Regions from separate parts of the Homo sapiens genome. Here region 2 is linked to region 1. Evidence: fine-mapped QTL for protein levels in blood plasma. A gene starts in region 1. The other region holds a variant in brackets. All regions are shown on one strand. Distances are between the middles of the regions. Region 1 holds the start of ERAP1 (endoplasmic reticulum aminopeptidase 1). Region 2 overlaps ERAP1 (endoplasmic reticulum aminopeptidase 1).

What was found. PIP is the chance, under the fine-mapping model, that this variant and not a neighbour inherited with it causes the effect. Sun 2018 read protein levels with aptamers (SomaScan).
Region 2: its variant is fine-mapped to the plasma level of the ERAP1 protein (Sun 2018, PIP 0.95).

The regions. Positions count from the first base shown.
Region 1 is chr5:96,800,511-96,816,360 of GRCh38, forward strand. ERAP1 (endoplasmic reticulum aminopeptidase 1) reads right to left here and starts at 7,435. Exons shown (of 19, transcript NM_001040458.3): 1 at 7,350-7,435; 2 at 2,893-3,433; 3 at 352-490. The coding sequence starts at 3,416. It overlaps LOC124901033 (a long non-coding RNA gene), which reads left to right and starts at 6,948. Exons shown (of 3, transcript XR_007058879.1): 1 at 6,948-8,067; 2 at 11,318-11,504; 3 at 13,567-15,850. RefSeq lists a silencer at 6,856-7,315 and enhancers at 6,888-7,389, 7,390-7,889, 8,046-8,115.
Region 2 is chr5:96,771,519-96,783,586 of GRCh38, forward strand. ERAP1 (endoplasmic reticulum aminopeptidase 1) reads right to left here. Exons shown (of 19, transcript NM_001040458.3): 15 at 11,533-11,717; 16 at 10,175-10,336; 17 at 9,540-9,680; 18 at 8,905-8,986; 19 at 2,966-5,033. The coding sequence ends at 4,878. It overlaps CAST (calpastatin), which reads left to right. Exons shown (of 32, transcript NM_001750.7): 31 at 126-184; 32 at 1,122-3,165. The coding sequence ends at 161. Among named protein-coding and RNA genes, the nearest start is that of ERAP1, 30 kb to the right of the region's middle. RefSeq lists an enhancer at 8,854-10,053. The variant A/AT (reference allele first, on the strand shown) is at 8,890.

The sequences.
Region 1 (15,850 bases):
CTTTAAAATCATTTTAAAAGATCATATGAGAAAATGAGGGTGAAAGTGCTTTGTGAAGGGCACTAATATTTAAACCTGACCTGAATTTCTTATACCACTTCCCTCCTATCAGCATGTATAACCTGGAATGGCACTGTTACTGAAATCTTGCATTTTTAGGTGCAATTTTTACTTTGATTACATATAACTATGGCTTGAAACAAAAGCATAGGTTATAAATGAAAAGTTAGTAACGATCTGCCAGGCAATAAAACAAAACAGGTGACCCAATGTTGACTGTCACTGGGCTAGTGCAAGTCACAGAGAATCAGTAGATTTTCCTATAGAAAATACACAGGAGTGCAGACTCACCAATGGCATATTGGAGATGGCTAGGTGCCTTGGCTCTCTTCTAATTTTGATTGAGAAACTTGCTTTGAAGGCAGGTTCATCAAAGCAGGGAAAGGCCATTCTAGCTGCAGTGGGTTCAAATTGTGTTGATGCTAGTATCCTAAAATTAAGGCAAGTGAAATAAAAATTGAGCATGAAGCACCAGGAACTCTAAAACAGGTGTTTGCTTTTTAATTCCTAAAGTTACTATAAGATTGATGGATTTTGCTACTAAAAAATATTTCATCTGACAAAAGCTATCATAAACTAAGTTAAAAGACGAGTTACACTGGGCATGGTCATGGTGTCTCATGCCTGTAATCCTAACACATTTTTGGGAGGTTGAGGTGGGAGGATTACTTGAGCCCAGGAGTGTGAGACCTACCTGGGCAACATGGTAAAACCCCATCTCTACCAAAAATACAAAAATTAGCCAGGCATGGTGGTGCAGGCCTGTAGTCCCAGCTACTTGGGAGGCAGAGGTGAGACGATGGTTTGAGCCCAGGAGGCAGAGGTTTCAGTGACCTGAGATTGCGCCATTGCACTCCAGCCTGGGCGACAGAACCAGACCCTGTCTCGGGAAGAAAAAAAAAAAAGTTAAAAAGAAAAAGTAAAAAACAGGGAAAATTCATTTAAGAAGTATGTGAGGAAAACTTAATAGCCTTAACAGATAGTGAGATCCTAAAAATATGTAATCCTAAAAATGGCTCATACCTGTAATCTTGGCACTTTGAGAGGCCTAGGCGGGCGGATCACGAGGACAGGAGTTCGAGACCACCCTGGCCAACATGGTGAAACCCCATCTCTACTAAAAATACAAAAATTAGCTGGGTGTGGTGGTGCGCGTCTGTAATCCCAGCTACTCAGGAGGCTGAGGCAGGAGAATTGCTTGAACCCGGGAGGCGGAGGTTGCGGTGAGCCGAGTTCGCGCCACTGCACTCCAGCCTGGGTGACAGAGCAAGACTCCGTCTCGACAAAAAAAAAAAAAAAAAAAAAAAAAAAATCCCCAACAACCAAGGGAATCTCAGGCAAAGTCAAAGGTCATTAACAGGCAATTCATAAAAGAAGAACCTATAAATCATTAACAAACATATCAAAAGCTGCTCAACTTCCTTAATCAAAGTTACGTAAATTAAAAAGAGATCATTTATTTGGGGACCTTTTTTGCTCTAAAAAGACTGCCAATATACACTATTGGTGAGGGGTAAGAAAAAATGACAAAGTTTATCAAAAATTTATAGGCTCTTTGGCTTACCAATTTTACTTCTAGGCATTTATTCTAAAGAAATAATTTACAAAAATGCTCATCAAAGTGTTGTTGATACTGAAAAATTGGAAACAATTTCATTTCCATTCCCGAGGGATTAAAGATATTAATGTACAACTATGTATTTTAATAAAATCATTAAAAAGATGTCTAGTAATAGTCATTTATATAAAACATCTTCCCAACATATTAAGTTAAAAAATTTCCTTGTAAAAGAGAAAATATAAGAATTCTATTTATATAAAATAATATATATGCATATCCAGAAAGAAGTCTGGCAGAATATTCCAGTGAAATAGAAGTAGTGGTCAGTTCAGGGGGCTATGAGTGAAATAAATTTTACTTTCTTACCTTGATAAAATAATATGGAATTTGAAAAATAAATTAGTATAATCTACCAACAAATAAAATTCCATTTTAAAACTGAGCATAAAATCTCCCCCAAATAAGTCTCCTCCTTAAAAACAGAACCAAAGCAAGGTGAGAAGAGATCTCTAAAAAAGTTTTAACTGAGATAAAAGTATTTCCTCTAATATGTTGCTAGTAGGATTTGCTGAAGTCCTAACCTGTAGTATCTGTGCATGTGACCTTATTTGGACATAGGGTCTTTACAAGTATCATGGAGTGAAGAAGAGGCCACCAGGCTGGGCCCTAATCTGGTATGTCTGGTTTCCTTATAAGAAGATGGAGACTGGGACATAGGAAAATAGAATGGCCATGCGACTAACAGAGGGAGAAACTAGAATGACGCAGGTGCTAGGCATGGAGTACCAGGGATCCACGGCCACCACTAGATGCTAGGAAGATATAAGGAAGGATTCTACCCAGAGTCTGGAGGGAGCACGGGCCTGCTGACACCTTGATTTCAGACTTCTAGCCTCCAGACCTGAGAGAGAATACATTTTGTTGTTTATAGCTACCCAGTCTGTGGTACTTTGTTACAACAGCCCTAGGAAACTAATACACAGTTCAGGAAAATTAAACATGTTTATTATGTCTCAGAAATCGAACCAAATAAACAAATAGATATTTACTCTGATAGAGCTGGGGGAAAGAAAATTGGTTAAAATAGAATTTTAAAATGAGATTTAAAAAGCAAGGGAAAAAGCCATTTTTAACACTATAAAGAAGATGCAAAAGCAAAACTGAAGAAAAAGTTCAACAGCAAAGGGAATTTTAAAAGACAATCAATCTGAAATAATGAATTTAGCGTGGGCAGCACTTGCAGTTTAAAAGAAAAAGAGAAAAAAAAATACCTCAGTTCCCCTTCCTTGGTTCTGTAGGTGCTTTTGTAAAATCCGTGGAAAGTCTCCGAAAGATTGCCAGCATAGTGAATGACAACTGTGTACGGGAGCCCGACAAGGAGGGGCTCGGGAGCCAGCAGTGCAATTTGCTCCTGACGGGGGTGTTCCAGGACCTGCAGGGGTTCTTCCGATAGCCTCTCTCCAGCTCCCTTCCTGAGGGTGGCCCTAGATATCTGCAGGTGGTGACTATGCAGGATGATGGTGCTGGTGGGCTGACTGGCTGTGATTTCTACTTTCGTGGTTCCCCAGAAGGTCAGCGTGGTAAGGTTTGCATGGATCAAGAGATCATAATGAACTGGGATGACGTACTCAGGAAGTCGTATTTTATTCCAAGGAAATGGTGTCCCATCACTACGTTTTGGAGATGCTTCAGTGCTCTGACACCATGAAGGAGTGGACACAGTTAAGAGAGCCAACAGTGAGGAAAGTAGAAATGACATGGTTGCAAGGGACCATTTGAGGGGCAGAAACACCATCTTCTTGCTCTACCTACCTAGCGGCACAAATGTACAAAAGCAAAAATATATGTCATTAAAATGTTATTGACACAGCATAATTTCAGAATGTATCCACCCAGCATTCACAGAAATAGGCATAAACTTCCAAAAGTACTAGGTCTTTTCCTGAAAGTAAAAGGACCTTCCCTATGTTATGGTTTCATATAAGAAAGATGTTTACAGTTAGCAACAATCATTAACACGTACTAGAAAGCATCATTTGATGTTCAAAGTTTAAATTAACTCTACCTGTCAGGGTTCTTGGTTGAAAGCAACCGAACAAGCTCTGGCTGATATAGGCAGAAAAGGAATCATTAGGGGATCCTGAGTGGCTCACTACACGGGTCACAGAGTTGCAGGACATTTGGGAAACCAGGCTCATGAAAGAAGCAAAACCAGAACCATATCAGAGGAACATCTGATCAAGCACCACTCCCCACTGACACTGGACCTTGGAGAAAGTCACCCTAGTACCCTGGAAATCAAATGCTGACACAGTGGCAGCCACCACTAGAACGAGGTCTCCACTTCCCCTGTAAGTATATGTAATGGTAACCTTTAATAACATCAGTGTCTTCCTCAAATTGTCATGCCAAAAGTTAATTACCTATTTATTTAGCCAGGAAGAGCTTAAAGAGCTTAATTTTCCCAGTAGTTTGTGGCAAACGTATCAATCACCTGGATTGATTTTAAAGACATAAAAGCAATGTGAATTTCAGGCCAGGCATGGTGGCTCACGCCTGTAATCCCAGCACTTTGGGAGGATGAGGTGGGCAGATCACAAGGTCAACAGATTGAGACCATCCTGGCCAACATGGCGAAATCCCGTCTCTACTAAAAATACAAAAATTAGCTGGGTGTGGTGGTGCGCACCTGTAGTCCTAATTACTTGGGAGGCTGAGGCAGGAGAATCGCTTGAACCTGGGAGGCAGAGTTGCAGTGAGCTGAGATTGCACCACTGCACTCCAGCCTGGCAACAGAGCAAGACTCTGTCTTTAAAAAAAAAAAAAAAAGGCAATGTGAATTTTAAGGAAGTTGGCAAACCATGCCCCAAGCATCAAACATAAGTTTTTATTTCTTTTATACAAACGCACCTTTCTAATGGGTGTTTGCCAAGAGGGGCCCATACCAGGTGAATGCAAGTGATTGGCCCAAACTCCTCGTGTTCCAGTTGGGAAAAGTAGCAAGCTTACAATGTGGATCCCTCAAAGTGTTCACAGTACATGGAATTCTCCCTCTCTGAGATGTCAAGTTTCCTAACTCTGGCTGCATATTAATGTAACCTGGGAAGCTTTTAAAATTTTCGATGCCTGGGTCCTTATTGACAACAATTAAACTGGAACCTATGGTGATAAGATCGGGGTATGGTTTTACGGATTGTTTAATTTCTGGTTTTTGGTTTTTTTTTTTAAAAAAAAAAAAAACTGTCCAGAGATTTTACTGAGAAGCCAAGGTTGAAAAGCTCATCCTTGCCAAATCCTGGCTTTCCCCCTTCAACTCTATGTGATAGGATACTAATTCAAGGCAATGGCTGAAGTGCCTTCCCTAACCCCTGACTTCCTTGCTCCCTTCCCAAATGCACAGCTCAAGGGAATTCCCTTCTCCTCACCTCTGGAGCAATCTGGAGGCTAAACAGAAAGGATACCTACACATTAGAGAGAGTCTTGGAAATCTCATAATCCCAGTTCAAAAGGCACCACCCAGGTGAGACAGGAAGTGTGAACAGGGAGAACATTTTTTTGCCCTTGAAGTTGGGGAACTAGAGAGTAAATGGAACTTGTGTTTTGCTTTCCATATGGAATTACTGGCAGCAACAGCTTAATGAGCATCGCCCCTGCCCCAAGACGGGATCCAGAGGACTCTGTGAAGGTGGCAGGTTCAAGCATGTAAGGACTCTGAAAGTCCCCGAGACCTCTCCAACAGCCCCAGAGAAGATCTAGAAATTCCAACTCGTTATGAGCTGACAGAAAGGCTGATGTGCTGCGGAAGGGGTTGGTACCGGGACCTTGGATCAGAGGCTTTGCAGGGTTGGGTCCATGAGGGGTCCAAAGAGAAACAGTTATGTCTCAACGAGGATGCAGTGCATGAGTGGGGCTTGGTAAAAACTCCATGTAGTGAATAAAGGGCTTCACTAATAAATTCTCTTATTAATCCCAAACTGTAGGCTACATCCAAGATTCTGTGATCATGTTCGTGTGTTTGGCTCTTCCCCTGAAAAATTAGCTCTTGTTTGGCTTTGCTTCCAATAGTAAGTGTTCCAGTTTGAAACATGGCATTTCATGGTTCTGGCTGGTCTCCTAGGGTCTGGTTTTACTAACAATTTTCTGAAAGGGAGGCAGTTAAAAAAAAAGAAAGCTCTCAAAAACAGTAGTCTACTCAATATAAGCAGCTCTTCCCAAGAGAAGTACAATTCTCTTTGAAGTTACACTCCACTAACACTTAAAGGAATAGAAGCCAAGGAGGAAAAAGAACTAATATTTACTAAGCTCCTCCAAAGTGCCAGGCACTTTACACATGCTCACTCTCTCTAATAGCCTATTATTCTCATTCAAGGTGGGGTAACTGAAGCAAAGAACCATTCATGTAACTTTGCTAAGTTCACACAACTTGTTGGAATGCAATCCACATCTGTGTGAGTATAAACTCCCTGCTTTTTCAGCTTCACCAAGATCCCTCTTTTTTTTTTTTTTTTTTTTTTTTGAGACGGAGTCTCGCTCTGTCTCCCAGGCTGGAGTGCAGTGGTGCGATCTTGGCTCACTGCAACCTCTGCCTCCCTTCCTTTTATTGGGGCACTATAGTATATGAAATAGATCATCAAGAAGTAATTGAGGTTCTTCCAGAATTTCCTGAACAATGAAATTAACAAGCACTGTTGGTAAATAATAAAAATGCTGGATTAATTTGAAAAAAAAAAAAGTACTAGAATGTTTCTATTCAGGCCGCACCTGAAAATGTGCTACTTATACTAATTAAAAATCCTCAGGCAAGAGACAACTGTGCCCAATTTTCAAGTTTTTTGTTTTGTTTTGTTTTGTTTTGTTGTTTTGTTAATTGTTGACCACGTCCTGAGTTCAGAGCGAATCCTCTGGGTGTTTAATAGGAAACAGATAATTTCTTTCTGAACCTAGCCTACACAAAGAAATCCAAAAGCGTGAGGAAGTGTGTGCTCTCCCCCTTCCCCTCATGGAATTAACTTTGTAGGACCACCTGGCCAGTGAGGCACCCAGATAGGAAACTTTTAATTTGCGTCAACAGAGGTGCTTTATCTGAATAAAACCCAGCCAGAGCCAGAGCGAAGGGGAGAGAGAGAATTGCTGACCAGAAGAACAGGAGAAGCAGGGAGGGAAGTGACCTTAAGAACACACACGGCCCGCGCATCCCACCCCACCAGAGTCTTTAACCCAAAGCCTCTGGGTTTCTCTAGCAGCTATGGGCAGGTGCCCTCCTCAGCCCGAGCCAGCTGCCCGCCCCACCCCGCCTTTTGGCCTCGCGCGGGCGTCGGTGGCCTGCAGGACTGGCAGGCATCCAGGCGCCAGGCGGAGCGCTGAGGGAGGCTCCCGCCGGCCGAACAGCGGGGAGACCCGTGAAGCAGGCGCACCGGCCACGCGCCCGGAGGGACAGGGACAGGGACCGGCAGGGGTGGGCCCGCCGCCAACCCGCCGGGCACCCCGCGGACTCGGGCCTAGCCAGCGACTCCCCCCGCCCTTCCCGCGCCCTGTCTCGCGCCCCGTCGCCTTCCTCCCGCGCCCCGTCGCCTTCCTCCCGCGCCCCGTCTCCCTCCTCCCGTGCCCCGTCTCCCTCCTCCCGTGCCCCAGGCCCTCAGCCCCCCACTTGACGGGCGCAGGGAAGGGGCGGGTGCCGCGCTCTCCTCCCGGCCCGCAGTCCCCTACCCGCGGCTCGAGCGCGCTGTACCTGGGGTTCTGGGGCCGCCCTCACCCTTGCGCCGCCGCCACCACCACTGCCGCCGGCCTAGCTCCCCCAGGACCGAAAGTGAAAGTGGAGCCCGGGGAGCGGCAGGCTGGCGCTGAGCGGCGCTTCGGCCCGAGCCCTAGCGGCAGGCGGGGAAGCCCCTGGCTAAGGCGGGAGCTGGGGAAAGGGTAAACGGGAGTGGGGCCGAGCGAGGGAAGCCGCAACTCCCAGGAAGGGAATTGGTAAATGAGCGCTGCACGCCGGGGAAGCTGCGAGGTTGCGATGCGGGGGATCAGGCGTAGGAAGTGCACGCCTTTCTGAACGCGGATCCGTGTGTGTGTGTGTGTGTGTGTGTGTGTGTGTGTGTGTGTGTGTGTGTGTGTGTGTGTGTGTGTGTGTGTGTGTTGAGATGCTTTTTGTTTTTGTCTTTTTTTTTTTTTCACTGTTTAGCGTTGCGAGGGTTAGGGGCATGCAGGAAAGGGCCGGTGCTCAAGTTGGGGACCGAAGCCAGGCAGGCGCTGACAAGTCCACCAAGCCTAGACGCGTTCGACGCCCATTGGACTCGCTGGGTGTCCGTCATCTCGCCACTGCCAGTGGGCTGAGAGCTCTTGGCCCGCCTCGGAAAGAAACATGAACCCAGTACTCTGTCGTGGCAAAGTGCCGCACCTTCTGGGGCTTCGGTAGAGAATGACTACAGTGGGAGATGCTGTAGAGGAGGAAGGTGGGTTAGAGGTGGCCCCCAGGACTTTCCTGCACTACCAAGGGCCACTGTACCCCAAGGATTAGCTGCTTCCCGCATCAACACGTTCCCTCTGATTTTTCAAAGTAAATGACCATTTCTTCACTCCCCTTAGAACAATTAAAGCTGAATAAAATGGCCAAAAAGACCATCTTTAAACAGTTGAGGCTAAATGAGGTAACAAGTCAAGAAAACACAAACATTAAAACACCAAATGCTACAAGTTTATTACCGAAAATGGGTCCCGATCCAGACCCCAAGAGAGGGTTCTTGGATTTTGCGCAAGAAAGAATTTGAGGGGAGTCCATGGAGTAAAGTGAAAGCAAGTAATTAAGAAACTAAAGGAATAAAAGAATGGCTACTCATAGGCAGAGCACCCCCAAGGGCTGTTGGTTGTCCATTTTTAGGGTTATTTCTTGATTATATGCTAAGCGGGGGAAATTATTCATGCCTCCCCTTTTTAGACCATATAGGGTAGCTTCCCGACGTTGCAGTGGCATTTGTAAACTGTCATGGAGCTGGTGAGACCGTAGCAGTGACGACCAGAGGACACTCTCATTGCCATCCTGGTTTTGGTGGGTTTTGGCCAGCTTCCTTACTGCAACCTGTTTTATCAGCAAGGTCTTTATGACCTGTGTCTTGTGCCTACCTTCTATCTCATTCTGTGACTTAGAATGTCTAACCTCCTGGGAGTGTAGCCCAGTAGGTCTCAGCCTTATTTTACCCAGCTCCTATTCAAGATGGAGTTGCTCTGGTTCAAACGTCTCTGATAATTTGGTGAGTGGACCATGGTCCTAGTGGGAACAGGACCCTTTTCATGCGGTTCTCAGACTTTCTTCTCCCACTTCTTTATTGGCCTTCTTCCCTTTGAGAACTGGGGATTCCAAGTCACTGCAACAGTATTTCTCTTTTTTTTTCAATATTATGTTTCCTTTTTAAAAATATAATGTTTCATACTGCCTATTATCTCTAGTCAAGGACATTTTATAATATAAAGATTAACACCCTGTTCCAAGACTCAACTACGGTGGGATCCAGGGAAGTTTTTTTCACTAAAATTCAACAAGAAATGAGGACTTTGAGATCTGGTAATTTCTGCATGTTCAGAATTTGACAGGAGGTATCAATGGATAGCGTGTAGCCTCCAAGACCTCCAGACATCTCGGAGTGCTCCCAGTTTACTCAAGATGAGACCTCTTTGTCCAGTAAATGTATGCATTTCTTTGCTTTTATATTTATATTTTTGAATATGATGGTTTTCCTTTGGCTTCTAGTAAAGTTTTTTTGTTTTTGTTTTTGTTTTTTGTTTATGTGTCTTTTTAAATACATATTGAAAGTCCAGCTGGCAGAACTGAATGCACCCAACAGGCTGGAGGTTAATACAGAAGACAGCTGAGGAGACAAACAGGGCAATGCCCTGAATGGATGTGGGCAGAAAGGAGCTGAAGTGTAGGCGAGGAGAGAGCTGACACCACCACCCGCTCCACGCCGTTTCCCCAAAAGCTCACCCTGACTCAGACTTTAGCCTGTCGCCCTGGCCGTGATTTCGTCTTTAGAGTTGAAGTGCACTACAAAGAGCGATAAGTCAGAGGATTTGGCAGCATTCACTTCTAGTTTCAAAGCCCTAGCAGGGATGTAGAGGACACAGACCTTGGAGTAAGGACTTTAAGGAGTCCTAGTTCTAGAGCCTGTGAGATCAAAACAGCACATTACCGAGCTTAGAAATGGTTAGAAGGAAGGGAACAGAGAGAAAGGGTACCTAGGTTTATTGATTCCCTACCAACTGTTAGATACTGTTAAATGCTAGCTATGTGTGCATGTGTGTGTTTATAATTTGATCTCTTCAGCAACCCTGTAATGTAGATATTATGCTTTATAGATGAGAAAAATGAGACAGGTCGGCAACTTGCTCAGAGTCAAAGAGAAAACACACACTAATTCTACTCACATTGCATTGGCCAGAACAAGGAGGGGTTGGTAAACACTAATATTGTATACCATATAGTGTAGGAGGGCTGGTTGGCCGGTTGAGCCCATCCATTGCAGAGGCTTCTCAGTGTCCTTAGTCCCAGAGGTGAGCCAGAGGAATGAGGAGAATTTCAGGCCTAGGCCAATGAAATACATACCACTTTGAGCTATTACTGATCTACTTAAAAAATATTGAATTCTAGATATTGTCAAGTGATGTTCAATTTTGCTGTAATTGATTGATTCAGTTCTGCTTTCATTAGCTTTTAGTCAATTAATGTCAGCGTTTGGCTCATTTCTTCTGTTTTGCTGCCAAAGCTGCTCCTATTTTAATCATATTACCACTCTCCTTTTTGATGTAAAATCTCATCCAGAATCATGGTGTAGAAAACAGACAAAAGCAGGCCTGCTCTTATTAAACAGGGCAGCTCCACCCAGTCAGCCTTGCCCACTGCTATCCGGCCCTTCCACACACATTGTGGTCCTTGAGACTCTTCCATAGGCTCCCAGGGCCTTAGAACTTAATTTTTTTAAATGCCAATTTAAAAAAAAATAATAATGCCCCTCATTCTTGATATTCTTGATAAAGAGGATGACTTTTTTCCCCCTCTGTGCCAAGTTGCAGAGCAGGCTTGCTTAACAAAAGCAATACCATCTTATTAATAATCAGAAACAGGGAAGACGGTACAGATGCCATGTTAAAGACTGTTCCAAAACAGGCCACTGAGCTCATATCAAATAATAAAGTCCTCTGAAATGTGGCAGCTTGAAAGCATTTACATATAGTCTATCTCATGGGATCCTCACATTGTACTTATGCAGGTGGCTAGTAGCTCCATTTTTCTAGAATGAGGAAACAGGATTAGAGATGTGAAGTGACCTACCAGGGGCCACCACATGGAAAAAGCCTGCTTTAAAGTGAAGCCAGTTCAAAGGACAGCAGGGCTGACAGAGACAGAGAATACCTCCACTAAAGCCCTCAGCTCCAGCTGTCCTGAGCAAATCCTGTCCTTAGACCTTCCATTCAAGAGGACCAATGCTTTCCTTTTTGATTTAGCCAGTTGGAGTCAGTCTTCAGAGAGAGTCCTGTATTACCATACAACAGAGCACTATGGGAGCGAGCAATGTATGCCAGATTCTGTAGGAACAACTCAAGCAAGTTGAGTGACCACAGCTGCCCTTGAACTTCTAGAATTGTGGATCCTGAAGAACATTCTAGGTGCCACGAGGACTGATCACATGTTTCCCATTTTCCCTCCCTCAGGCATTTATTTCACAAGATACTGCTGTCTAAGGTAACCTGAGCATGTTTCCAGTTCTTGCAGCCTTACAGAACCCAGGGAATCCACCTGTCTCCAACCTTCCTCAGTAGGTGACAGGCCCATCTAACTGCTCTCTAGCCAGTCTTCTGTATTCCTGTTGCTTTTACCTTTGCTCGTGTCAACAAGGAGGTAAGTCACCATGACATATTTCTTAAATTTGTATTTCTTTCATCACTAATGAGACTGAATATATGCACTGAACATATGTTAATTAGCCGTTTTTGCTTTGTGTTTTCTCTTTTGAGAATTATATGTTTATGTTTCTTGTCCATTTATCTACTGGAGAATCACAATTCAGTTATATAAAAATTATCTATGACACACAAGAGAAAGCAATGAAATTTCTTTAAAATGCAAAGTGTCATAGTCAGTAAAGCTCTACTATTTCAAAGAAAACCCACAAATGTGTCTGGATAAATCATGTCAATTTCTTAAAAACCCAGATCTATACCCGTTATGGTGAGTTGTTTGAAATATCAGAATTTACTAGATATTGTCAATATGAACAGATTAAAGCAAACCTTTGTTTAGGAGGCTTTATTTTATTTATGGCTCCCTCTGCCACAGCTATTTCACAAAGAAAGAATGAATTATCCAGCCAGGAGTGAACATGATCTTTGCATATGCCTAAAGGAATGATAAAAATATTGGGATGAAAAATATGTAGATTTGTTTATTGTTATTTTTTGAGGGACCATGGTGTTATGCTACTAACTGTCTTGCCTTAGCTATAATGAATATCTGTTGCAATAACTAAACATGGGAAAAATAACTTTTCAAAACCTTAGTTTCTAGAAGGTTAATGGATTTTATTATATTGAAATTAAATGAGCTATGATACAAAGGAGAAAAGGAAAGAAACGAATAACTTTCTCAATGAAGTTCTGTAAAGTATATACAATTGGGGCCTGAAAAGAGAAACTCATTTATGCTCATCCATACATGGCAGTGTGAAATTGACAGAGTTTGGCTTAAGTGAAGTCTGTGGTTCTAGGAATGCTTGCAATTTATTGGAAAATTAGATTGTGATTATGGAAGAAATGACTCAAGTGGTCTTCAGGCCACCACAGCCTTTCTTTTTTTTCTTTCCCAACCCTTCCTAAGAGACAGTTCTCCTTATCTCATTTAAACTTATGGGTTTGAACTAAGTGGTGGGAAGTGGAAGAAAGAGACATTATCTTACCCCTATAAACCTACAACACTCCCTTGGCTACCCTGGTGCTTAGGAATGCTGACTTTATCTGTCCTTAAGAAGCTGTCTGGACCATAGGAGGAATGCTTGGTTTTATTTACAAAGCTGTCTAAAGGATGAACAAATGAAGTGTTTAGAGGCCCTTTGAGACAAAGAAATACTAGCTATCAAATTGAAGAGAAGGGCAACAGGTTAGGCATAAACATTTTAAAATGCAAGATAATCTCTAAGCCTTTGAAAAATTTTAAGAGTAGTCTAATAGGCAGGTTTAGGGAAATAATTAAAATGACCTCTAGGCCAGGCGCGGTGGCTCACGCCTGCAATCCCAGCACTTTGGGAGGCCAAGGCAGGAAGATCATGAGGGCAGGAGATCGAGACCGTCCTGGCCAACATGGTGAAACCCTAGCTCTACTAAAATACAAAAATTTAGCCTGGCGTGGTGGTACGTGCCTGTAGTCCCAGTTACTTGGGAGGCTGAGGCAGGGGAATCCCTTGAACCCAGGAGGCGGAGGTTGCAGTGAACCAAGATTGTGCCACTGCACTCCAGCCTGGCGACACAGCAAGACTCATCTCAAAAAAAAAAAAAAAAAAAAAAAAAAAGCCTGGACTGCCTGCATAAGGCATCTTCATACACGAGGAAGATAAACACCTTACCTTACTTGTTTAACAAACTGTAGTTAGCATTCTGTTATATCTAGCTAAAAGAAATTCTAAAAGATAGCCTTACAGATCAAGCCATAAAGAGCTAAATCATTTCAAATATGTGTTCTCGTGTTATAATGTTTTTTTAGTGAATCCAACTGTTATGGTATTTGTTTAGGAAGTTTTCCTTGTCACTTTTTACTATCTTGTCTAAGAAAATGGCCCATTTCCTTCCTTTGGAGGAAAAGTGTCTCTTATTGTTAATTTTATTAGTTATCTATTATTGTGTATCAATAATACGAACATATCAACTTAAAACAACACATTTATTAACTCACAGTTTCTGTGGGTTGGTAGTTTCTGTGGGCTGCAATCAAGATGATGACTGGAGCTGCAGTCTCACCTGAGGCCCAGCAGAAGGGAAGGATCTGCTTCCAAGCTCACATCATTGTTCCAGCATTCCGTTCCTCATTGACTATCGGATTGAGAACCTCAGTGTTTTGCTGACTGTTTTCTGGAGGCTGCTCTCAGATATGACTAGTTCCTTGCCATATCCTATGGGTTAGAAGCAAGTCACAGGTTTCTCTCACACTAAAAGAAAGGAAATTATGCAAGAGAATGAATACCAGGAGGCAAGGATCATGGGGGCAACTTAGATTACGTCTGCCACACTAATGTTACTGCACATTGAAGATATTTCTACTATTATAATCTTAGGATTGGCATAGTCTGTGTTTTTGAGGCAGGGAAGGAGACATATATCAAAAAAATAACTGGTGAGTGGATAATTGGGAAGAAATTACAGAAGTGACTAGATTCTAGAGACTAGAAAGATTTGGTTCTTCATTGAGCTGAAAATAGGAATATCTCCCAAATAAGAGATATTCATGAGAAATCAATGATAGCTTTTTTCCTGATGGAAAAATGAATTAGCTTATGCTCATCAGAAGTGATGCCAAATTCAGGAGAAAGAAGGCAGCTGACATCCTGACCAACAAAGAGACCAAGCCCCGATAACTGGATTTGAACATCGGTGAAGAAGATGATTAAAGGTAGAAAGAGCCTTTACAGTCTAGAGAAAATAGTATAGGCCCAATGGAAGCTCAAAGTTGAAGAGACTTTTAACAGAAAGACAAAGGAAAAGGTGTCCTTGGGACTAGGGGTCCGAGCAAGACCTGAATTATAAACTGAGCAGCCACAGAGAAGCACTACAGATGTAGCTGAGTTATCTAGGCCTAACACCAAATATTCTAGAAAGACCCAAAGTACTAACCAGCTCTGGCAGCAAGACCAGCCCATGTCTACCTCTGCAGAACTTTGAGAATCTTTGGCTGATTTTTATTACCTAACTCCCTGTCCATAAGAGAAGGGAAAGAGACCAAGACTGAGTGGTTGGATCAGCCAAAGATGTCAAAATTAAACTTCAGTTAAATTAGCAAGAATTCTGGGCTTTTCTGTTTCTGTAGCATTGTGTTAGATTTGTTTTTTCCCTTGGTTTTCCAGTCCTGGTGGTAGATTGCTAAACTTTTATAAAATCTGTGTGAGTTTAGCATTCTGACTGTTCCCATTCTAAAAGATGAAAATAGAAAACTCAAAGTTTATGTCACTAATTTGATCTTTGTAAATGCACTGCTAAATAAAACACCCAAACTATTAAGGTGTTGTTGTTGTTGTTGTTGTTTGTTTTGTTTTTTATTTTTTTTTTTTTTGAGATGGGATTTTGCTCTTGTTGCCCGGGCTGGAGTGCAATGGTGTGATCTCGGCTCACAGCAACCTCTGCCTCCCATGTTCAAGCGATTCTCCTGCCTCAGCCTCCTGAGTAGCTGGGATTACAGGCATGCGCCACCACATCCGGCTAATTTTTGTACTTTTAGTAGAGATGGGGTTTCTTCGTGTTGGTCAGGCTGGTCTTGAACTCCTGACCTCAAATTATCCACCCACCTCGGCCTCCCAAAGTGCTGGGATTACAGACACACTCAGCCATTAAGGTGTTTTTAATTCTTTTTTTTCTTTACTGTTTTTGTAAGCAGTAATTTATTAACAGATGCAATAAGTAAATTGAAGCAAAAAAATACATCACAATGCTTAAGAAACTTGCTTAACAGAAAAAAGATTCCTGAGCCACACTCTGAAAAATTCTGATACTGTAAATCTTGAGAGATAAATAGACACATATATGTATGTGTGGATAGACGGATGGATGGATAGATAAATGGAAAGATAGAGATCGAGATATAGCCTAAACTTCATGGCAAGTATAAGCTACTTTTGGGAATTTAGGGGAATAAAAAATTATTTTATCACTGTTGTACTAGGAACAAAGCAGATTTTCCACACGTTAGCCAGAAAATGTAGGAGAATCAGTGAACCTCAAAGGGCCAGCACTAAAAACTGGGCAGCATCAGTATCAGTTTTGGATCCTAGAAAAACTATTGGAGATGATGCAAACAGAAGAGGGAAGAAAGGTAGACAGAGTCTGGACTCAGCTGCAGTTTGTTGATGACTATCTGAATCGTTCCCTTGCATTCTTTCTTAACGAATTATACATGTGAAAATTGCACACTTGAAAATTAAAATATGGGTATGTACTGGAGGGAAAGCACTGAGAGAGGAGTTAGGGGCTGGATAGGCAGATAGAGAT
Region 2 (12,068 bases), 31 kb before region 1:
ACTGAAAGGACCATCTTATTTTTCCCCACTGACTGCCATCTTTTGTCCCCTAATTCTGAGAAGGCCATCTCCTCATACTTAATACAGAAAAGAAAGCTCACGGATGGTTTTGCTTTCCCTTTTAGACAACAGAGGAAACTTCCAAGCCAAAAGATGACTAAAGAAATACAAGTTAAGGTATCTGGTAAGTTGGGTGTTTATTTGTAAATGAAGACAACTGTATCTTCTGCCAATTTATGTGTTATAGATGAGAGAAGTGAAGTCCACCTCTTGAGTAATTCATGCTCACTTTACAGTATTGGCATGAAATGCATACTGCAAGATCTACAGAGTAATTGGTCATTCTCTGAAAGCACTAAATGGGATGAGTTTGCTATTGAAATGTTTAAAAACCTTAATCTTATAATTAAAAGCTTTTAAAAATATTAGGCCAGGCACTTAGAATGACCATCTGAGGCTAGTTGAATCTTTGAAATCCAAATGCTCATTACTGCAGGTTATTGTGGCAAAGCAAAATTAGCATGTTACAACTTAGCGAAATGTCCTGAAGACATTGGCATTCCCCAGAATACCAATACATGGTGGGGTGGGGAGAAGTACCCTTTAGAGTCTGGTGGAAATTACAGGGTTTTGGGAACAAGGGCAAAGGAAAAGATTGGCCATTTTTATTTGTCATTATTTTGGAAAGTAAAGTACTGTGTTTGATTCTAATTTATAATTGCTGAAGAAACTGGACAGATTGAAGGGATTTCTGAGATCTTCAGAACTGGGCCCTTATCTTAATCTTCAGAAAGGAGAGGGCTTAATGTAAGCCTTAAAAGCATACAAGCACTTACTGACCAAAGCCTAAAAGAAATCAAAGTATAGGTTAAATCGGGTTCAGCTCTCTCACCATGATCCATGTTTATTTCCTAGGAAAAAAGGAGCTATATTAGGTAGAACTGCTCTAACATTTTTCCCAAAATTAAAAAAAATTCTATTAATCCACTTTCATGTTTACTTATAGGAAATTCCTTCTGTCTGTTATACAATGCTTTTGCTAAGTGGTATATTTACTATGTCTGTAACAAGAAAATTACATATTAAATGATTCACTGCATTTTTTATTTGAAATTTTTAAGGTATCTGCATGTAAAATCTTCAGCTGGTGGATGGTGACTTTTGAAGAACAAAAGGCTTTGGCAACAGAAAACAATTGTTCTGGGTGATTTCTAGAATGGTTTTTGTTGAGTCTCTGAACATCCTAAATATTGGTTTGTTATTCTTTTCCAGAAAGAAAATGAATTTGACTGGTTCACCTGTGTACTGAGTATTGATAAACTTTGAATTTTTTTAATTGCCTTCAATTGGGAGAGAAAGCTTTATATTTGTAAGAAATATATTTGATAAAGTTTCTTAAAGCAACACCAAAAAAACAAAAGAAAAGCTAAGTGAATTTTTGCACATTCTACACACAGTGCCTGTAAATCTCATTTGTATTTTCAGTTTGCCCTTAATTTTTTTTGTTAGTGTTTAGAAAACAATGTTTTAAACATTCTTCAGTGTTCTGATTTCTTATTACCCCCTTTCCTCTTGGGCTTTTGAACTGTATTTGATGTTGCTTTGGGATAATGTTTATAAGTCAAACATAAGATATTGTACATTGGGCACATATCTCCTCTTGGGCTGCTAATAATAAATTAATAACAGGTAACCTGGACAAACCAGGAAGCACCAAACCCCTTTTCAGTTTGAACTCTTCTTTGCCAGGTGTGAGGACTTCTGCATCTTACAGTCAGCACAGAACACACTGAGACTTGAATCAAGTCAGCAACAGAGCAAAATAAAGGTTAGATAAGTCCTTGTGTAGCAAATTTCGAGCATAAGAAATAAAATCTAATTAATTCTTAGGGTACTCATCTGACTTGAACTCTGTTGGTTTACTGTGTTAGTAAACTGTGCTTTCTATTATCTATACATAAAACCTGAGCAGCAACTGTGTCTTTAGAGCTATTGCCACATTAGCCTTTGCACTGTATAGCGTCTGGCTTTATGGAACTTAAGTTTACCAAATATAAAAAGAAACTTCTGCTTTTAAAAAAATTATATATATATATTAAATTTGAAACCTGCATTTCTCCCACAGCAATGTAAGAAGTAGGCTCTGATGTCCTACCACTTTGAATGGTTTTCTAATATCTTAATGAATAGTTCCTGAACATTGCACTGATATCATCGATTAGAATTTTGATATTTAATTTCATCTTTATTTCCTGGTAGAGAATGCAGGAAAAGATGTCAGGTACATAACATAAAACAGATTGGGAATTTATTGTTTCCAAAGGGCATGGCCTTCCTTAGCATCAGTTTGAAGCTTTTGTTATGACTTAGCTGACTTGTGGCAGCGGGGCAAGCAAAAACAATAACACTGCTTATAAATGGCACCACATCTTGTTAACCTCCCCCCCAAATACTCTCTGAAAGTCATGCACATACCTATGGGATTTTACACACCACCAGCTTAAAATGCTATGTCTCTATCCATCAGAAATAGTCATTATTCTATTTTTAAGGCAGCAACAAGAAAAGAAAAAACACTTTTCCTGAGGGATTTCTAACCATGTATCTAATCCTCCCATTTGGGCAGTATAGGTGTTTGCTTTTTTGTTTTCTTTTTTTAAGAAAAACCTTGAAACCTTTGACACTGACAGATGTGTTTGCAAGGATACGGCTTCAGTATTACTAATTTCCATGTGTATCTGGAAGTATTTTTAAATGGCATACCAAAATCCAGAAGTTTAAAGATGCCTATAAAAGTAAACAACATTTATTTAAAAAGAACTCTGAATATGCCTTCTTTTTTAATTAGAAATATCTTCGAGACTTGGGTGTTTGTTAATAACTAATAACTGGAGTAAGCTACAGGATCTAAAGCAGCCCTTTTTACAGTCTAGTTAGGAGAGAGAAAATAATTGCAAATATCCACTTAGAGGCAAAGAACAATTTTTTATTATCAAAAAGGTTTCTGCACATTGTTGTGGCAATATTGTATCTGTTTAGAAAATGGGCTTTTCCAAAAGCAAACAAAGATAGGTTCCTCAGGTGACCAAAACTGAAAATCAATATTTCCATGTTTCATTAATCAAGGCATAAAATACAATTAAAGCAAAATATTTTACATTAAAATCTTGGTTGTGTATTTTTTTAAAAGAAGGGAAATAGTTTAGTTTGGGGTGGAAATTACCAGTGATTTCTATTTTTATTAAACCATTCACTACAACAAATAAGTATAAAAATTCCAATTCCACTTTTATACCTATTTATTTGTTGTAGTGAATGGTTTAATAAATGGCAGATTTATGTCCAGAAGTCACTCTATTTTGTCGTGTATTAGGGGAACACATTTTGACATTTTTCGTACCAATCATCAATCATATTCCCTTATCTTGAAGTTTTTGCCTTATATTCAAAAAGTTCAGTTTGAATTCTCCTTTGCCAGGTGTGAGGATTTCCGCACCTTAGAGTCAGCGCAAAACACGCTGCAACTTGAATCAAGTCAGCAACAGAGCACACTATGGGTTAGATAAGTCCCTGTGTAGCAAGTTTTCAGAATAAGAAATAAAATCTAATTCTTAGGGTATTAACTGACTTGACTTGAACTCCGTTGGTTTACCATGTTAGTAAACTGTGCTTTCTATTATTATCATCTATACATAAAACCTGAGCAGCAACTGTGTGCTGAAGCAACCGTGTGTGAAGTCTTCACAAAAGAAAGAAAGACTTCAAAGCCAAAGAATGTCCTATTTGCTAATATGAGCAAATATTTTGTTTCACAATGTACTATCATTTATTGGTGACTGCAATAATTTACTGTCAGTAAATGCCAATAACTAGTTAGTTAGAAATTGTAAAGTAGGCCAAATAAGAAGCAGAGAGAGAAAAAAAATCACCTCCCTAAGAAAAGGGTTTTCCTACAGACTTGAATGCACTCTGCTTTTTCAGAAGAGATACTGTACCAGTCAGGGAAATAGATGACACTCACTCAGAATTATCTGAGGAGGGTTCTATAAAAAGATTTTTTGCAAAAGTGCGAGCACATTATGTAGAAACCACAAGTCCGCCAGGACTAGTAAAAGCCAGACTCCCACTGAGGCCACTAATCCTGAAGGGATGAGGAGGGAGCAGTTACCAAAATCCAGAGGTGGAGAAGGCTGTGTGGAAAAGAGGGTCCCCTCTCGGAGCTAAGACCCTCAGGGGAGGCCAGCCCGAGGCATCCCGCAAGGGAATCAGGGAAGAACACCTCCACCTACTACCTCCTCCGACCCCAGCTCCAGCTCTCCGGCTCCCCACTGACCAACATCCAAAGGGCAAGAAAGCTTGATGACTTGGCCTTTACAAGTCAGCCCCTGGGCATGGAGCAAGGAAGAGGGATGGGCAGCGGGTCTGGAGGGGTGAGCCGGGAGAGCTTTAACCCAGTCATCGTCCGGCTTAGTCTCAGATCCAGGTGTTCATTGTTCAGTAGTCGACTATTCAGAGTCTTTCGAGGAGACTGATGAAACAGTTTATGAATGATAAACATGGGGTACAGGGTTTTGGACACGGGTGCTTAAGCATAAACTATAAAATGAGAAGAATAAGGTACTTTATTCTTCTGTGGCAGGGAACCCAACACTTGGGTTTACGTTGCAGGGCAACACCTGTGATGAACAAAACACATGGTAGCGATAGCCCATTCATGAAAAACTAACAGCTATTCTTTTCACAGGGATAGTCAAAAAATGAGTTGAAGGGAAAAAAGTATCTCCAGTTGGAGCCAAAACAGCCATCTCTAGTTTGAAAATACACTCAACAAAATGTTGGTGATTAGAGATAACAGGAACCTGGCAAGGGAGGAATTTTTACATACGTTCAAGCTTTTCACTTTGCAGCCACACTCTGATTTTATCAAAATTCTTATCCATCCAACCGATGTTTTCTTCAATGGTTTCAATTGTCTGTTGGACACAACGGAGCTGAGAACCATTTTCTTTCAAAGAGCTGAAGAATCCTTTTACCTTGTGAGGAAAAAGTGGGTTTTAAAAAATTAATTTTATCACATTAATCAGATGTAACTTTAGTTAAAACTGAAGCCAAAATTCCAGCATTTGTCAAAATTCTATATAGAAGGCAGTCCCAGCTGTCTGAATAGGATTATGTACACATAAGCTGTATGAAATGAGCTCATGCCTCATGATGTCAAGTTCTGTTTTTTGTCTGCAGTTCTTTTGTTTATTCTCAGTTGCCAGACTTTAAAAGACTTCACTGTTTACCATTTTATAATTAAGGTTTAATTGTGTCTATTTAATGTGTTATTCTGTTCTGTTCTCACAGATGCAAACTTCGTTTTTTAAAAACATGATATCTAAAAAGCAGAATGTGCAGAGTCTTTTCTTTGCCAAGCAAAACAGTTTCCACCACGTAAGTGCTGTCTTTCTCCATGGGCCTGGCCTTGTATGTTATTATAGAAACACTGTGGGGAATGGGATTCTTAGCAAGTTATGGCGGTAAGACCCAAACCTTGCCATTTTTTTTATCCTAATCTACAATTCATGTATTGTTGTCTCAAGATAAAATCCACATAAAGTTCCCCATGATTTTAAAGAGATAAGAAACTCTTGGCTACCTCCTGAAAAATATGTTTGTTCTTGTTTCATTTGTGGGTATCTTAATTCACCCCTTGAGCTCACATGACAGATAGGCTGGCTTTGCCACAAGATTGACCATTGTGCGATTCTGTTTCACCTTAAAGGGTTATTATCCTTTTCCCATAAATTTTCACAGCATTAATCCATCAATTTTTGATTTGGTATTCAGGAAGCGAATGTAGACCATGATGTATTATTTATTCAGCATAGATTCCAGACAGCCAGTTCCTTAGAAATCCATGTCATAATACCATATTATTAGTTTGGGAATAAAGAGGGGAGTAGGAATGGGTTTTAGAAAGATCAGAATTCAATTTTAAATGATGCAGAGTTGTTTTAAAATTATATGTCAATACAGTGCAACTTTACAATGAGCAGAAGGCATGGCCTCCTGCTGTAGCAACCTGGAAAACACTTCACTCTCTACTTTAAGTTGTAGCTCAACCTACTGTTTCATACGCTCTCAGAATGCAAGATTAATTCACAGTCGATTAAAAATCACTGAGCACTACTCAACAAAGCACATCAATAATTTTACTAATTGTTCAAATCATTAATCCTAAAGGAGCTCATCATGATAGCTCCACTAAAAACAGACCTTCTACAACAGCGAAGCCAGCTGTTAACCATTACTCTTACCCTTGTCCTGACCCAAAATCATCTCTTCTGTCTTCACCTGCCTTGGAAATGCAACATCTCCACTGAATATTTGATTCAGACTTGGCTCTTTAAGAACAATTTCTGTGCAATAAGTAGCACAATACAGGGATAGGAAAACAGGTTTATCCTACTAACTTGATTTGAGCAAATGATTTAACTTCTATGGAAGCCAGTCTCCTCATTTGTAAAATGAAGAGCAGTGGTGAAGGATGTAGTTATATAATGCAGGTAAAGTGCAAAGCCCCAAACCCAGCATGTATCAGGGACTTAACCTCATCCATTTGTTCACCAATATTTACTCTGATATTTATTCATCCCTCTGCTGTAATTACTGTGCTAGACACTGAGGATGCAGCAGTGAATCAGGCAAGCATCCTCCCCTCATGGAGCTTACAGTCTTTTGGGGTATACAAGCAGTAAATATGATTACTGTAAATAAACTGCTATGAAGAAAATATGCCAGGGGTATGCTAGTAACTGAGGAGATGTGGCCTGCATTGAACAGCATGGTTTTGGGGAAGGTGATCTGAGCCGAGACCTCTCAAAGATAAAATGCCCCTTTCTAGTGAAAAGTTGGGGAATGGGCAAGCCAGGCAGAGAGAATAAAAAGTGCAGAGGCTTAAAGACAGGAGAAACATGTGGTAGCCCAGGAGCAGAAGGAGGCTGAGTGGCTACAGTGTTATGAGAGAGTAAGCCAGGAGCGCCTGTGGGAATTGGCACCAGAGAGGTCCTCAGAAGCCAGGTCTTCAAGGTCATGGACACATGGGAAGGAGGGATTTGGAATTTACTGCAAGAACAATAGGCAGGGTTTCAAGAAGCCAGGGTCAGTTATGGGCTGACTTGCAGTCTTCAATGTGGAAAATGTTTTGCTATTGGCAAAGTGGCAAGGGGGAGGCCAGTTAGGACACTATTGCAATAGGCAAGGCAAGAGATGAGAAAGGATTGAATGGGGGTAAGAGCAGAGAGAAGTGCGCAAGATCCAGTGCATGTGCTGAGGGAAGACCGGCAGGACTTGCGTAGTTAGATGTCTGGGGAAGAAAGGATTCAGGATGACTCCCGTATTTTATATGTCCGTAGTTTGCTCTCCATTATGATAACATCTCGGGCTCTTTACTTTTCATGCCCTGCTTCAGGATCTTCGCACCTGATATTTCCTCTGCACACAATACTCCTCTAGATGTTGGCATTTCCTTCGATATCTTCTCAAATGTCTCCTAATCATCCTATAAAACAGCACCAACCCTCTATCCCAATCACTCTCCTTGCCTTATTCATCTTCAGAGCATGTAACTACTTGACATTGGTTGATTTGTCTGTAATTGTCTGATTCCCACAGCAGAAATTTCAGCTCCGTGACAGCAAAGGTTTTGTCTGTCTGTTCACTGTTACAGCCCCATAACCTAAAACCATGTGTGGCATATATGTCTTGAATGAATTAATGAGAATACAAGTGAATGAATGAAATGCTTTGTTGCTATAGATCTTGTCTATAGATGACTACCTTTCTGGTCAAGGCTTTGGACATCTCTTCAGTCATCAGACAGAGTATCTCTGCTCTAGACCTCGCTGGAGTTCAAGCTTGAATTATTATATGCAAGTTAATTTTACAAGCCTGGATGAGGCTACTGAAAACTGGAAAAAAGCTACGAGACTGTAACAACCCTTCATTCTTTTTCATTTCCAAAGCTCTCTCCCCATCTCAAGCTAGAAAATAGTGTAACCAGACTACACAATGGAACCACTCCTAAAAAAATTAATATTAGCCTCTCAGCTTTTATCTAAATGTACCACAGTTTAAGAGCCTTGTAAAATTTGTTCCACAACTTTACTATAGGAAACCTTATTATAGAAGGGACACCACAGAACTCAATGGCCCACACATCAAAGTCCTCGAGTTTAGGACTGAAGAAAAGTCTGCTTTTGTAGAAAATGTGTATGCTTCATGTTCTCTTTTACCAGACAATGAGAATAACTCATACTGATTCCTCATTTTTCCTTGACTTCCAGGAATGTCTGTGATAAATTCAGGGGACAATTGCGAGAATTATCCTCAGCCATAAGTCCCTCACATGGTTATCACCTGTCCATTATGTATCTTTTTGTCCTTCATTTTAACATTTCTTTTATACATGGATCTTAAAGCTGCCTGAAATTCTTTCTGAAGGTAGATGGTTACATAATAAGTGACAGGGAACCATGAACTTGGATGGTTTATAAAGAACCTAGATTCCGGACCTGCCTCTTTAGCAACAGCTGGATGACCACTTCAGTCATTTATACCTCAGTGCCCACTTTTAACATCCTTAAACAAGGACTAATTGTCTCAAGTAATTTTCTTCAAGTCCTAAGGTTTTTACTGGCAGAGCTAAGACCTCTTAACGTGTCTGAGAAGAGGCACAGTTTTCACTAGTTTAATTGCAACTGATTTATGCTGCTGTCAACACCATAGCATCCAAAAATAACTTCTAAATGACAATCCATTTCTAACTCACCACACCCTCAAAGTATTTTGTCTACCCCATATTAATTAGCTAATTTTCATTTATGTTTAAAAATATATATATAG[A/AT]TTTTTTTTTTTTACCTCTTCAAGCCGTGTTCTTGTGGAGAATTGATTTGTTGTACCCATTACCATGTGGGCTATGGAAGATGAGCCAAGTTCAAACCTAGAGAGGGAAATATTCAAAAACGGGTTGTGAAATACTTATTCATTTAACATATATTTTAAGGGCCTCCTATATATAATAGCTTTCAGCTAAAAACTGATCGGTGTGAAAAATACAAAATATGATGTCTATCCAATGGGTTAAGATCTAGCTGTAAAGAATAATACACACCAACAGCCTAATAAAAGGTTAAGTATCCAACAGAAAATGACAGAAGCAGGAAATGCTATAAGAGTTAGACAAAGACAGATGTGAACAAGCAAATGTGTTCATGGAAGGCCTGGGCTGAACTGTGAGGAGGAAGGCTTCAGATATGTCCATGGGCTCAGGAAGGGGTTATGCCAGATGGAATGGAAAACATCCCTGTCCAGATTCACTAGTTAGCACTGAAGTCCAGTTTTATGTTTTCTACAAATATTTTAGGTATTTCTACTGCCTATCTTCAATCAAAAAGTACCTTTAGACTGTTACTGTTCTTTTACAAACAGCAAGGCTAAAACACAGTAAGGTTATGAACTTATCCAGTCACAGCACAATTTTTGGCACCACTTACTTTTGTACAAGTTTGTTCCAGTTTTTCCTCAGAAATTGCCAGGCCAGTGGGTATCCTACTGGGTTCCTGCCAATGAGTGTAAGAATTTGTGGAAACTCCTGAGTTTTTATTTTATCTCCCTTAAAGCTTTCATCTAGTAGCCTAGAAGGATTAAGAAAAGAAATGTTAGCAATGAATAGGTGATGAAACAGTTATGAATCACTGCAATAAAATTACTTGTAAAAGAAAAAAAAGTCTGCCAGTAACAAAGGTTAAAAAGATAAATGGGTAACCACAATCCTGATAAACCCACTATAGCTACATAATAAAAACTAACATTTATATAGTGTTCATAACACCCATTCTCATATACCCTCTCATTTGCTCAAAAGAATAGTTAAGGAAGAGTAGCTCTAGTAAATATTTTTAATATGTTGTCATTTTAAAGATGCACAAATGTATACACCTTTAAATATTTTTCCTAACACCTGGTTCTCCCTAATTATTTGCCTTTCTCATTAGATGTGTGCTGACTTGCAGTATGTTCCCAGCAGGATAGGCAATTCCTGGCCAAGAAAACAAAAATAGATGCCAGAATGATCTAATCTAATCTAATTTCCCTTGGCCACATGAACATGAATGAATGACGGACTCACCATTGAAGCTTTTCCTTATTTTGGGTTCTGCAGAGGGCAAATTCAATTTGGCTTTTCTCAGTACTGGACAAAGAAAACTGATATTTACTATAAAGAAAATCCCAGCCTTCTGTGCTCTGGGCCCCCACAGCAAACACTGCCAAGGTCACGTCGACAGGCAGGCTATAGAAAGGAACACACTCGGTGAGAATCTGAGGTGCAGTAAGTATGTTTAGAGGCATAATGGTGACTAACTATGAACTGCTGAACTTTCCCCATGATCAGAGAAGCATGCCTGGAAATATAAACAAAAACTACTGATTTCCTTCAGTTACAATTTTTTTTTTTTTTTTTTTTAGGACGGAGTCTTGCTCTGTCACCCAGGCTGGAGTGCCGTGGCTCGATATCGGTTCCTGCAAGCTCCGCCCTCCCGGGTTCACGCCATTCTCCTACCTCAGCCTCCCGAGTAGCTGGGACTACAGGCGCCCGCCACCATGCCCGGCTCATTTTTTGTATTTTAGTAGAGACGGGGTTTCACCGTCTTAGCCAGGATGGTCTTGATCCCCTGACCTCGTGATCCACCCACCTCAGCCTCCCAAAGTGCTGGGATTACAGGCGTGAGCCACCGCGCCTGGCCTAGTTACACTTTATAAAAAAAAGGCAAGAGAAAAATATCTAAAATTAGGTTTTAAGTAGCCTTCTCAAAAATGTGAAATGCCATTTTTATAAATACCTACATATTTAAATACTTTAATGATGCTGGGTGACTCCATAGGGGATCACCTTTCAAGCCAAAAGAAATTCAAACTATATTCAAAATTTACACCATGATCACAAGTCAGGACGGCAGTAGGACCACTGTTTGGATTTCTTTAAGCTGAAGCATGTAGGTTGTTGGCATAAATGTTTCCTGGGTGGGGTTTAAGCTCCAAATGTAAAAAGGACTGAAGTGTAGCAAGAATAGGGATTTCCAGATACGGTAAAATCCTACCTTGCTTAGACAGTGTCAGCAATTACTATGCATCCCTGTCAGGGAATTTGGAAGCCCAAAGAAACTACTATAAAATACAATGCATGTGTTTCTCTATGGCATGGCTGTCACCGTTTAATAAGATTTTGCATTGCCTATACAAAATGAGAATTATTCCCATACCATCCTAACTCCCCAGATATTTGACTTTTATGCATAGAAGTTCCCTCCTAGCATTTCTTAAAGTTACGAGATACATAGATAAATCTTAAAAAGCAATTTATTTTCCAGAAAAGGGCAGCAGGGGAGACACTTAAACTTTTTGTTTTCCCTAATGTTTAGTACCAATGATGGAAAACAGAAAAGATGCCCTTCACATCAACAAATTGGTTATTTAGTAAGGACTGACCTCAAGTTTCCATTGGATTCCTTCCACTTTCTGAAATAGCCTTCTGCCCTCTGTACGCACGGCTGATAGTTGTGCACACAGGCGAGGAGTAGTAGTTGACTCCGCAGCATTCGCTCTGAGACTGAGCCCTCGTCTGTCCATGTCTGCTTATCAATGAGGTCCCTTAGCAGCCTGATGAGGAAGGCCTGAGGGCGTTGTACAGGGAAACAGGGACCAGTATTGTCACAGGTCATTTCATGTTAATATAATCCATTATGGTCTCAGATGATGGGGGCTAATTTTTAAAGCATAATCTAACTTTTACTGTATAAATCATGCAGCACTGTTTAATTATAAAAGGGCCAAAAACAATAAATAATGATGAATGACTTTCATATTTTCATAACAAACTTTTATAAGATATCCATCTACTTAAAGTCAGGATGAATTGCGACTTTTAAAACAAACTCAAAGAGAGTTTACATGACTAAATTTTGAGAGCAAATTATGCAACAAGACTTCAGGACATTTTGCCAAGCATAACAATTTTGTGCCTC